Linked DNA regions of Homo sapiens: region 1 is linked to region 2. The links come from fine-mapping of genetic effects on gene expression. A gene starts in region 2. The other region holds a variant in brackets. All regions are shown on one strand. Distances are from middle to middle. Region 1 has its middle 4.2 kb from the start of CYREN. Region 2 holds the start of TMEM140 (transmembrane protein 140).

What was found. PIP is the estimated chance that this variant, and not a neighbour inherited with it, causes the effect.
Region 1: its variant is the best candidate, but not a certain one, in a credible set for the expression of TMEM140 in whole blood (TOPMed, PIP 0.54).

The regions. Positions count from the first base shown.
Region 1 is chr7:135,172,189-135,177,574 of GRCh38, forward strand. It overlaps a transcript of CYREN not described here. Among named protein-coding and RNA genes, the nearest start is that of CYREN, 4.2 kb to the left of the region's middle. The variant T/G (reference allele first, on the strand shown) is at 2,224.
Region 2 is chr7:135,145,715-135,151,100 of GRCh38, forward strand. It overlaps TMEM140 (transmembrane protein 140), which reads left to right and starts at 2,358. Exons shown (of 2, transcript NM_018295.5): 1 at 2,358-2,556. It also overlaps a transcript of CYREN not described here. RefSeq lists an enhancer at 2,137-2,636.

The DNA.
Region 1 (5,386 bases), 26 kb after region 2:
TTGACTTGGTAAGACTAGTCTTTGGAACTTGCCCCACTCCATCTGAGTGGAAACGTGGCCTGATCACCCACAGCATGCCTGCATGGGCACTCTTGTTCTGGTTTTGACTTGACTTGAATTGCTGGATACTTTGGTTTTGGTTTTGACTTGGCTTGAATTTTTTGGTACTCGGATTTTGAATTTCGTGATTTTGGTTTGGTATAAACGGTAAAAGTGTGTGTGCCCTCTTTACCTGTTCTTTGTCTTGTGGTATGTGTGGTGTGAGCGTGGTATTTTGTCTGGAAAAAAAAAAAAAAAAACATGGGTCAGGTGCAAAGTAAGCCCACCCCACTGGGACCTATGTTAAAAAAATTTTTTTTCAAGAGAGAATTTAAAGGAGATTACGGTGTTAGTATGACACCAGGAAAACTTAGAACTTTGTGTGAAATAGACTGGCTAGCATTAGAGGTAGGTTGGCCACCAGAAGGAAGCCTGGACAGGTCCCTTGTTTCAAAGGTATGGCACAAGGTAACCTGTAAGCCAAAGCACCCAGACCGGTTTCTGTACATAGACAGTTACAGCTGGTTTTAGACCCCCTTTCCCCCACCACAGTAGTTAAGAGAACAGCAGCATAAGCGGCTGGCAGAGCCAAGGAACGACCAGAAAAGAGAAAAAGAGGCCATCTGTACCAATTCTAAGAGTTTAGACTAAACAAGTTCTTATTAATAGCAAAGGATAATTGAAATCTCAAACTTACAAGGTTTTCAACAAAAGTGAAGTTTGCTAAAAGTTAACAGTGTAACATGTATTTTGGTAACTTCTAATCTTGTGGCCTTAGACAGTCTAGTCCAAAGACATAAAGAAAGTTCGCTTTTTTAAAAAGGAAAGAAAAGGGGGGAGGCAGAATTTATATTAAAAAAAAGTTATATGGTAAATTCTTGTCCTGAAATAAATTAACTGGTTGTTTAAAGAAAAAAAAGTTTGTTAATCAGTCAAAAAATTGAGACATGTTAAAAAATTGTCTGGGAAAGTCGTGAGAAAAAAATTATAAAAAAAAATTTTTATGCAAAAAATATTGTATAATTTAAAAGTAATGAGGCCTCCTGAGTACTATTTAAAAAAAAAAAACCAGTTCATGTGCAAGATGTATAAGAAAAGTAAAATATACCTTTGGTAAAAAAAAAAATTATAAAGGGGCATAAACGTGGATTTTTACCTACATTAAAAGGTTAAAAAAATTATTGTTTTAAAAGTTTAAGCAAGCTTTAAAACGTTAATTATAAAAAAAATTCTGTGTGTAAACATATTAGCTAAGGTTAAAAAGGTATCATCCAGTTTTTCTGTGAACTGGACATTAAAGTAAAAATGCAAGAGGTTTTTCTTAAAGCATCAACCTGCTCTTTAACAAAAATTATAAAAGGTTAAAAAGAGTCTATAAAATCTTACCTTATGGTCAAACATAAAAAATTGGATAAATATGTCTACAAGGTTTTATTAAAATTAAGTTTAACATTAATAACACACTAATATAAAGGTAAAATTTAGCTTATCTGGTATAAAAGTCATACAGGAAGCATTAGTAAATATAAAATAGTGTTTAGCTTTCTTTTGTCTAAAAACTAATAAAAATTGGTGCTAAAGGAAGCATTCATTTTACTAGAGGATCATAAAAGTTAAAGACTTAAAACAAACTTTGGCAATTAAGACAGCATACCAAGATGCAAATGCCTGGTTGAAATGGATCAAATATTCCATCTGCAGGTTAAACAAAAGCAATTAGCATGCTTGTGCACATGGCAGGCCAGAGGCCCTGATTGTCCCCCTTCCACTAAGGTGGTCCTCCAGTCGGCCAGGCATGGGCTGCATGGTAGCTCTTTTCCAGGATTCTATAGCCTGGAGTAATAAGTCATGCCAAGCTCTCTCTGCTATATCCCAAAGTCCCTGCAGGTCAGCCCCCGAGGGCCATCCAGCTTCCATCTCCCAACACTAAGTTCACTACGTGTCTCTCATGGCAGGGAGGAGACTTAGCATTCCTTGGAGACCTGAAGGGATGCAGTGAGCTTAAGAATTTTCAAGAGCTTATCAATCAGTCAGCCCTTGTTCATCCCAAAGCGGATGTGTGGTGGTATTGTGGTAGACCTTTATTGGGGACTCTGCCGAGTAACTAGAGTGGCACTTGTGCTTTAGTCCATTTGGCTATCCCTTTCACCCTGACATTTCATCAACAAGAGGAAAAAATAATAA[T/G]AAGAAGAAGACATCATAAAGCGAGAAAAGCTCCTTATAGGTCTTTCAACTCTCACATCTATTTAGATGCAATTGAAGCCCCGCAAGGAGTCCCAGATCAATTTAAAGCTTGAAATCAAATAGTTACAGGATTTAAGTCAATATTTTGGTAGATGACAGTCAATAAAAATGTAGATTAGATAAACTACATCTATTACAACCAACAGCAACGAGCTTTTCATGAGTTAAAAAGAAAAACTCATGTCGGCCCCAGCCCTGAGGCTACCTGACCTGACAAAACTCTTTACGCTCTATGTGTCAGAAACAAAAAAAATGGCAGTTAGAGTTTTAACCCAGACTGTAGGGCCCTGGCCAAGGCCAGTGGCCTATCTCTCAAAACAACTAGATGGGGTTTCCAAAGGCTGGCCCCCATGTCCAAGGGCCCTGGTAGCAACGGCCCTGTCACAAGAAGCAGATAAGCTAACTCTTACACAAAACCTAAACATAAACTCCCCCCATGCTGTGGTGATTTTAATAAATACCAAAGGACACCATGCTAGATGAATGCTAGACTAACTAGATGCCAAAGCTAGCTCTGTGAAAATCCCCACATAACCATTGACGTTTGCACACCCTAAACCCTGCCACCTTCCTCCTGGTATCAGAGAGCCCAGTTAACCATATCTGGACTCAGTTTATTCTAGTAGGCCCAACCACCGAGACCACCCTTAAACATCAGTAGGCTGGGAGCTGTACATGGATGGGAGCAGCTTCGCCAACCCCTGCAAAGTGACTCTGAAGAAGACGACAAGCCCTGCTCCAGTCACACCTGGAAGCTGACTGGTCCACGCACGGCTGAAACATGAGGAAACTCATCACAGACTCATTTTCCTTAAAATTTGGACTTGAACGGTAAGGACTTCAACTGACCTTCCTCAGACTGAGAACTGTTTCCAGTATATACATCAAGTCACTAAGGTAGGACAAAAGATTGCTACAGTCCTATTATTTTATGGTTATTATAAGTGTACCAGGACTCTAAAAGAAACTTGTTTGTATAATGCTATTCTATCCAAGGTATGTAGCCCAGGAAATAACCAACCTGATGCGCGTTATGACCCATTTTAAGCCTCCCATGATCACAGTTTTTAAAATAAAATTAAGGACTGGTCCTTTTCTAGGTGACACAAGTAAGGTAATAGCTAGAACAGAAGAAAGAGGGGTCCCCAAAAATGTAACCTTAAAATTTGATGCTTGTGCCGCTATTAATAGTAAACAGCATGGGATAGAATGCGGTTCTCTAGATTGAGAAAAAAGTTACACAGCAGAAAATAAGTACATCTGTCAAAAATCATATTTATGTGAGATGTGTCAGTACTGGTCTTGTGTCATTTAGGCTACTTGGAAAGAAGATAAAAAAAATATCCTGTTTGGCTCCAAAAAGGAAAGGCAGCCCCTCCTGCACGAGTGGGAGCTGTGATCCTTTAGAATTGATAATCACAAACCCCTCAGACTCAAAGTGGAATAAAGGAAAATATGTAACATTAGGCATTGACAGAAGAAGACTGACCTCCTAAACTGGAAACAGCTTACACCCTCCTACACGGAGAAGCCCCAGGCCCTCATAGACTTCAGGCAGTCCATCTTTCTGACTCATAACCCTACCTGGCCTGATTGTCAGTAGCTACTTTTAATATTGTTCAATACAGAAAAGCGCAGGAGAATTACTCAGGCAGCCTTACAGTGGTTAGAAAGCAATGCGCCTGAAGGCACAAATGATGTTAAGCGGTAGGCACAGAAGAGGTTCCCAGAAGCAGATCCAAATTGGGATCCAAACCAGGCAGGAGAATTGCAAAACCTGCATAGGTATCGGGAGGCACCCCTTAATGGAATAAAGGCCAGAAGGAAAAAGGCAGCGAATTTGGGAGAGGTCTCAGAGGTATGCCAAAAGGTTGATTAGAGTCCCAGTGAATTTTATGAAACACTCTGTGAAGCATACCGGCTTTATACATCGTTTGATCTGGAGGATGTAGGGAATCAATGCATGGTTAACGTGGCATTTATGGGCCAGGCACAAGGTGACATTAGACAGAAGCTTCAGAAGTTGGAAGGTTTTGAGGCTATGTATATTACCCAGCTCATTCAAGTAGCTACTAAGGTGTTTGTTAATCCAGAGGAGGAAGCCAAGAAAGAGGCAAAGCACAAAGCCAAGGAAAAGGCTGATTTGTTGGCTGCTGCTCTGGTTGAGAGACTGGTTTTGTGAGAGGACGCGGACTTGGTCGTGGTCACAGTAGAGGACAAGCTAGGCCAGGGTTTGAAGGCCAGCCTAGGCTTGAGAGGGATCAGTGTGCAAGAATGCAAACAGAAAGGGCATTGGAAGGTTGAATGTCCAGAAAGAGAAAAGGAAGAAAGTAGCAGCCAGGGACCTGATGCCCGCCCAAGGCCTGCAGCCACTAGCCGTTGTTCTAAAGCTGGATGCCGATCTGGTCAGCTTAGCAGGAGTTGAGGAATATAAGGACTGAGACAGACTGGGCTCCATCTCTCTAGGCCTCCAGGAGCCCCTGGTCTCTATGAAAGTGGGAGGCCAAAAGATGGACTTTATTGTGCCCCTGTTAGGGAGAGACTTGCTTCAGAAACTACAAGCACAAATTTCTTTCAGGCCAGAAGGAAACATGACTCTGGATCTAAGCTGACCAAAAGCTATGATGTTAACTCTTACCCTCCACGAGACTGAGGAATGGAGGCTATATGTAAAAGAGGTGTACAGGCTGTCTGAATTTATGGACAGAATATTTGACAAACTAGTCACTGAAATACCTGAGGTGTGGGCAGAAGACAGTCCTCCAGGATTGGTCATAAACCGGGCACCAGTGGTAGTCAAGTTAGTTCCAGGTGCAACTCCAGTGCGTATTCCCCAGTACCAGGTGTCTACAGAGGCAGTGCGAGGAATGACCAAGCACATAAATCGGCTATTAGAACATGGGATCATAAAGAAATGCAAGTCACCCTGGAATACTCTACTCTTAACCAGTGCAAAAACCGTCTGGTGGGTTCAGGCCTGTGCAAGACCTATGGGACATAAATAAAGTTACTGTTACCTTACATGCGGTGTTGCCAAACCCGTATACAATGACGAGCCACATTCCTGCTCATGCTGCCTGGTTTTCCTGTTTGGACTTAAAAG
Region 2 (5,386 bases):
TACATGGCTCAGCTGCTGTAAATGGTATTTACAGGCACACCTCGGAGATATGTTGCAGGTTCTGTTCCTGACCACTGCAATAAAGCAAGTATTACAGTAAAGCAAATCACACGAATTTCTGGTTTCCCAGTGCATATAAAAGTCATGTTTATACTATAAGGTAGCCTATTTAGTGTGTGATACTGTTATGTCTAAAAAAACCTAACGGACATACCTTAATTTAGAAATACTTTGTTGCTAAATAATGCTAACAATCATCTGAACCTTTGCCTTCACAACATAAGGCCTAACATTTGGCTTATCTTTGCTTTCACAATGCCTTCCTCACTAAGCTTAATCATTTCTAGTTTCCAATTTTAAATGAAAGACATGTGACACTTCCTTTCACTTAAACACTTACAGGCCATTGTAGGGACATTAATTGGCCTAATTTCAGTATTATTGTGTCTCAGGAATAGGGAGACCTAACGTGAGAGAGAAATGGAGGAACGTCCAGTTGGTGGAGTGGTCAGAACACACGGTCAGAACACCAACACAGAGTTGGTGGAGCGGTCAGAACTGAATTATCAATTAAGTTCACCGTCATATGGGTGCGGTTCATGGCACCCCAAAACAATCACAATAGTAACATCAAAGATCACCATAACCAACATAATAATAATGAAAAAGCTTGAAATGTTGCAAAAGTTACCAAAATGTGACACAGAGACATGAAGTGAGCAAAGGCTATTGAAAAAATGGTGCCAATAGACTTGCTCGATGCAAAAATGCCACAAATCCTCAATTTGTAAAAGATGCAGGATCCACAAAGAGAGATGCACAATAAAATAAAGTATACCTGTGCATATTCCAATATTGTAAACACTGAATATTGATTTAAACAAAACTATAACCAATTTGGATAGAGGAGGAAGAGAGGAAGCATACTTCTGGAACATGCAGTGGGGAAGAAGAAAGCTAAATCTTCACCTTTTATGGTTGGGAGTCAGTAGATTATGCCTGAAACTGAAAAATCAAGAAGTACCAATCCAAGCATGTTATTTAGAGAACTGAGGTAAATGCCTAAAGAATGAGCACAGGTGAAAGTGCTTGCCTCTGAAGAGGAAGAAAGGGAGAGTGTGGGACTGCCGATTTTCGTAAGTTTTGAAAAACTGACTCTTTGAAAACTAGGTACATGATAACCTTGAATAAATTTCATAAATATAAATATGTTTCTATCTCTTCTATATCACTTCACTCACCAGTATTGAGTTTTCAGAGTAACTACTGTATATTAGTATCTAAAAGTTAATTTTCTGTCTTAAAGGCATTAATATGGATGCTAGACTAAATATACAGAAATTCCACTTTTCATAATAATAGCTACCATTACTATGGTCCCAGTATTGTACTAAGCACTTATATTATCTCCAGTCCCCAGAGCAACCATGCAAAGTAGGTACTGTTTCCATTTTACAGATAAGAAATTGATGCTCAAAGAGATTAAATAATTTGCTAGTATGTAGCAGAACTCTCTGATCTCAAAGCCTCTGTTCTTCCTTCCTCCTGGATCCCATCACCTCTTTCTAGAGTTTGCGTTTAAAAGAACTAGGGGCAGGGGGAGGGCAATGTAGCAGTTCAAATAACTCCTCCTTTGGAGGAAGGGCAAGGAAGCAGAAGAGAACCGCTGAAGGATTCAGCAATAGCACTAGGTAGCAGTCTCATGTAACCAAGTTTAACCCACAGTTGAAATTTCCAGTTGGTCATGTGAGCAACGGAAGCAATTTTTAAACTCTGGCCAGGAGCCCCAATGCTTACAAAAATAAAAGCTTTGTTCGGCTCTTATTTTGAAATAAAATAGATGTTCCAGCTGCTCCAACATGGGCCTAAACACTGCAGTGAGAATGCTCAGGACACAAAGTTTTGTGTCCAGAGAAGCCCAGTCATCATTACAAAATTGATCTCTAAAAGGGGTTGGGGGACAGACGGCATAGCTGCTTCCCAAGGAAATGAGTAGGAGGTGACCTGGGTCCTGACTGCCACACTGGCTGGGAGCTTGGACCAGATGATCCTGATGGGTTTCTTCTGAATAAAATTCCGGGTTGTGTTTATCTTGCAGTTTAAATCACTGGGAGCTTCGAGAGTTCTTTGGCTCCTTCCCTTTCTGGAATTATTGTGTGATATAATCAAGACATTTACCTGGCTCTTTAAATCAGTTGGTTTGCCGGCTACAGTGTAGGTAAAGAGTATGTCATAATGGACAATAAAAAGTTGTTTACATACCTCATTTCTGAAAAGTCATGGGCCACTGGCAAGTTAGGAAACGAAAGTGAAATCAGCTGATAGTGACATCAGTCAGAACAAATGTACCAAAGTTCAGAGAGCTGTTTACTAGGCACGACTGCGAAGGCAAGGGGGCACCAGCTCAGGACTGCATCTGCCTGCCATTTCCCTTCCACTCCTCCTTTCTGGAGTCTGACATTAGAAAGCCAGCGAGAAGGAAGATTCAAACAACCAACCCTGATTTCCTGCTTCTCCTTTTCATGAGTGTTCCTGTGGTCTCTGCACCTCCTTTCTGTAAGTACCGATCCTGCAAGCATCACAGCTTACCCAGACGTCTACTACCTTGTAAGACAATTTTGTTTTCTTCTCAGATATTTCATGTTCTGGCAATCCACATAGGGGAACTCACTGGTTGTTCAGTATCTGTGACCCTCCCTCGCTCATGTCTGTATAATCTACATAATCTACCCCCTTTACTCTCTGCTCTCCTTCCTTCCACTCTTCGGCATCAACATGTGTAGCTCTGGCCTCAAAGATGATGAAAGTAAGGCCAGTATAACTGGTTAGAAACGATGCAGGGCTGACTGCACACAGCAGAGTCTTGCACGCAGTGTGTACAAGGACATGGCTGTGGCTTGTGCAATACACTGTTCATCAGAAATAGGTAAACAAAAGCAGGTCACCGACCAACACTAACTAAACCACTATTCAATGGTAGTTACGAACACATCATAAAACTTTAAAATACACACTGAAGATTAATATCAACAGAAAAACTTGTGTTCTTGCCTCAAAGAATGGGACCTAAGAGATGTTTAGATCTTATGTTAGTCATTAGACCAGATTGCTCCTCATGCCCCAGTGGAAATCCATGGTGGTATTTTAGTTCTCTTGATGCATATTTTAAGAGATTTTTTTTAATGTGGGCTTAGTTTCACTAATAACTTCCACTATGCTTCTTCGCCTATAAAATCAAAGGCTCCTTTGAAAGAGGGAAAAGACACATATTTCCTTCTTCCCTCATGATAACTGAAGAGCATTTTTCAGTATCCACTTACCATACCCCATTCCCCAAAATCTCAGGTCTGAGACTCAGTCCATGAGATATTTTTTCAATCTTGCACATATTCCCCTTTCTCAACTTTCTTTCCAGCTTAGTCCCTGCTTTATCTAATTACTAAGGCTGTTTTGAATGCCTGTTTTATAAATTTCTTTTTTTTTCATAAATGTAGCACATAATTCTAAAAATATTTTACTGCAAATAGAGAACAATTGCCTGTAATGTCACCACCCAGAGCTACCACAGCTAACATTAACATTTTCAAATACTTCTTTAGTCTCTTTCTCCTATGCCTCTTTATATGGATGTAGTCACACTATGTAGAGTGATTTTATACCTGCTTTTTCTAAAAGATGCATAGTATTTTATCCTTGATACATCATAGTTTACTTCTGATATTGGACTTTCAAGCTGCTTCCCATTTTGTGCCAAAAGTAATGCTGTGCTGAACATTCCTATGTATAAATTATTGACTGGATTTCTGATTGCTGTCTTAGGATAGATTTATAAAAGTGGGCCAAAGAGATATGACTATTTTTAGGGTTTTTAATGTTTATTGCCAATCTGCCTCCCTGAAAGTTTGTACAAATGTTCACATCCACCATCATTGTGTGAGAATGCCAGTTTAACCATATTTTTGGTATCATCAAGTGTTTTTACCTACAGTGTTGATAGGGAAACTCTGGTTTTTTACTTGGCGTATCTTTAATTACATTAGAAAAGTTACAGAATTTTTTTTCATGTTAGTTAACTACTTTGCATTCTTTGTGAATTATCTCTTCATATTTGTCCATTTTTAATGAGGTGTAATGTTTTTTGACAGTTTGCGTAAACATTTTAAACATTAAGTACATTAATCATTTCATAGTTGTGGTAGATATTTTCCATGCTCATTGACTTTTAATTATATTTATGTTGTTTTTGGTGAATAGAAATCTTTATTTTAGAATAGTTAAACCTGTGCAATTCTTTATTTGTAGTTTCCATTTGCTCTTAAGTTCCAAATTTTATTTTTCACTCATAAATCAAATATATCCTTTTTTCCAGATCATTGATTTTTTTATCTGGTTTTACCTTTCACTCTTGGATCCATGTGAAATTTATTTGGGTATGTGGAGTGAGATGAGGACCTAAAATAGTTTTGTTTCTCTTTTCTAGTTAGCTGATCAATTGCTTCAGTATTAGTTAATGAAGAACCCTTTCAGGACTCAAAACAAATATCTCTTCTGAAGAGAGGCTTTCCCTGACCCTATAATCTAGTCATCACTTCCTCCTGCCAGTTTCTCTCTCTCACTCACCCTGTTTATTTCTTTCCCAAACCTTTTCAAAAATTATAATTACCTTTTAAAAAATACATTTGGTGTTTGCCTTCCCAACTAGAGTACAAGCTCAATGAGAGCAGGCACCTGGTTTGTCCTGTGTGGCACTGATTCCCCAGGGCCTCTGATTCAGGGAGTCATCCAAAATGTGTCACTAACAGAGTTACAAGATGAAATGCTGACCCCACGAGTCGAAGTGGGTGGCAAATTGCCTTTGTAATTGCGGAAGAGAGGGCTGGTGCGGGAAAACTAACCATTGACAGCCAAAGGCAGTCACCAGTTTCTGGTACTACTGATTCTCAAACTCTGAATCTTGTGAATCTTGGCCGCCCACAAACTGGACCGTGGAGTCCTGCCAACAGAAACCAAATGAGATTAGCTGGACGTGGTGGCAGGAGGCTGAGGCAGGTGAATTTCTTGAACCCGGGAGGCAGAGATTGCAGTGAGCCAAGATGGTGCCACTGCATTCCACCCTGGGTGACAGAGCAAGACTGTCTCAAACAAACAAACAAATTAAGATGGCTCATTTGTAGACATTTTCTCATTTTTAAGGATTTTCTTCTCCCTCTAAACTTTTTGTAATCTTTGTTCCCACTTGGATTATCTGCTAGTGAGAGCTAATAGTCAACAAAACAATTGCACAAATAGCAAGTTAATATTAATGGAACCATTTAAACAGCTATCTCAATGGCTTGTCATCTGGGTGCCTGGACTCATGCTTCTGACTTTATGTTATAATCTCATG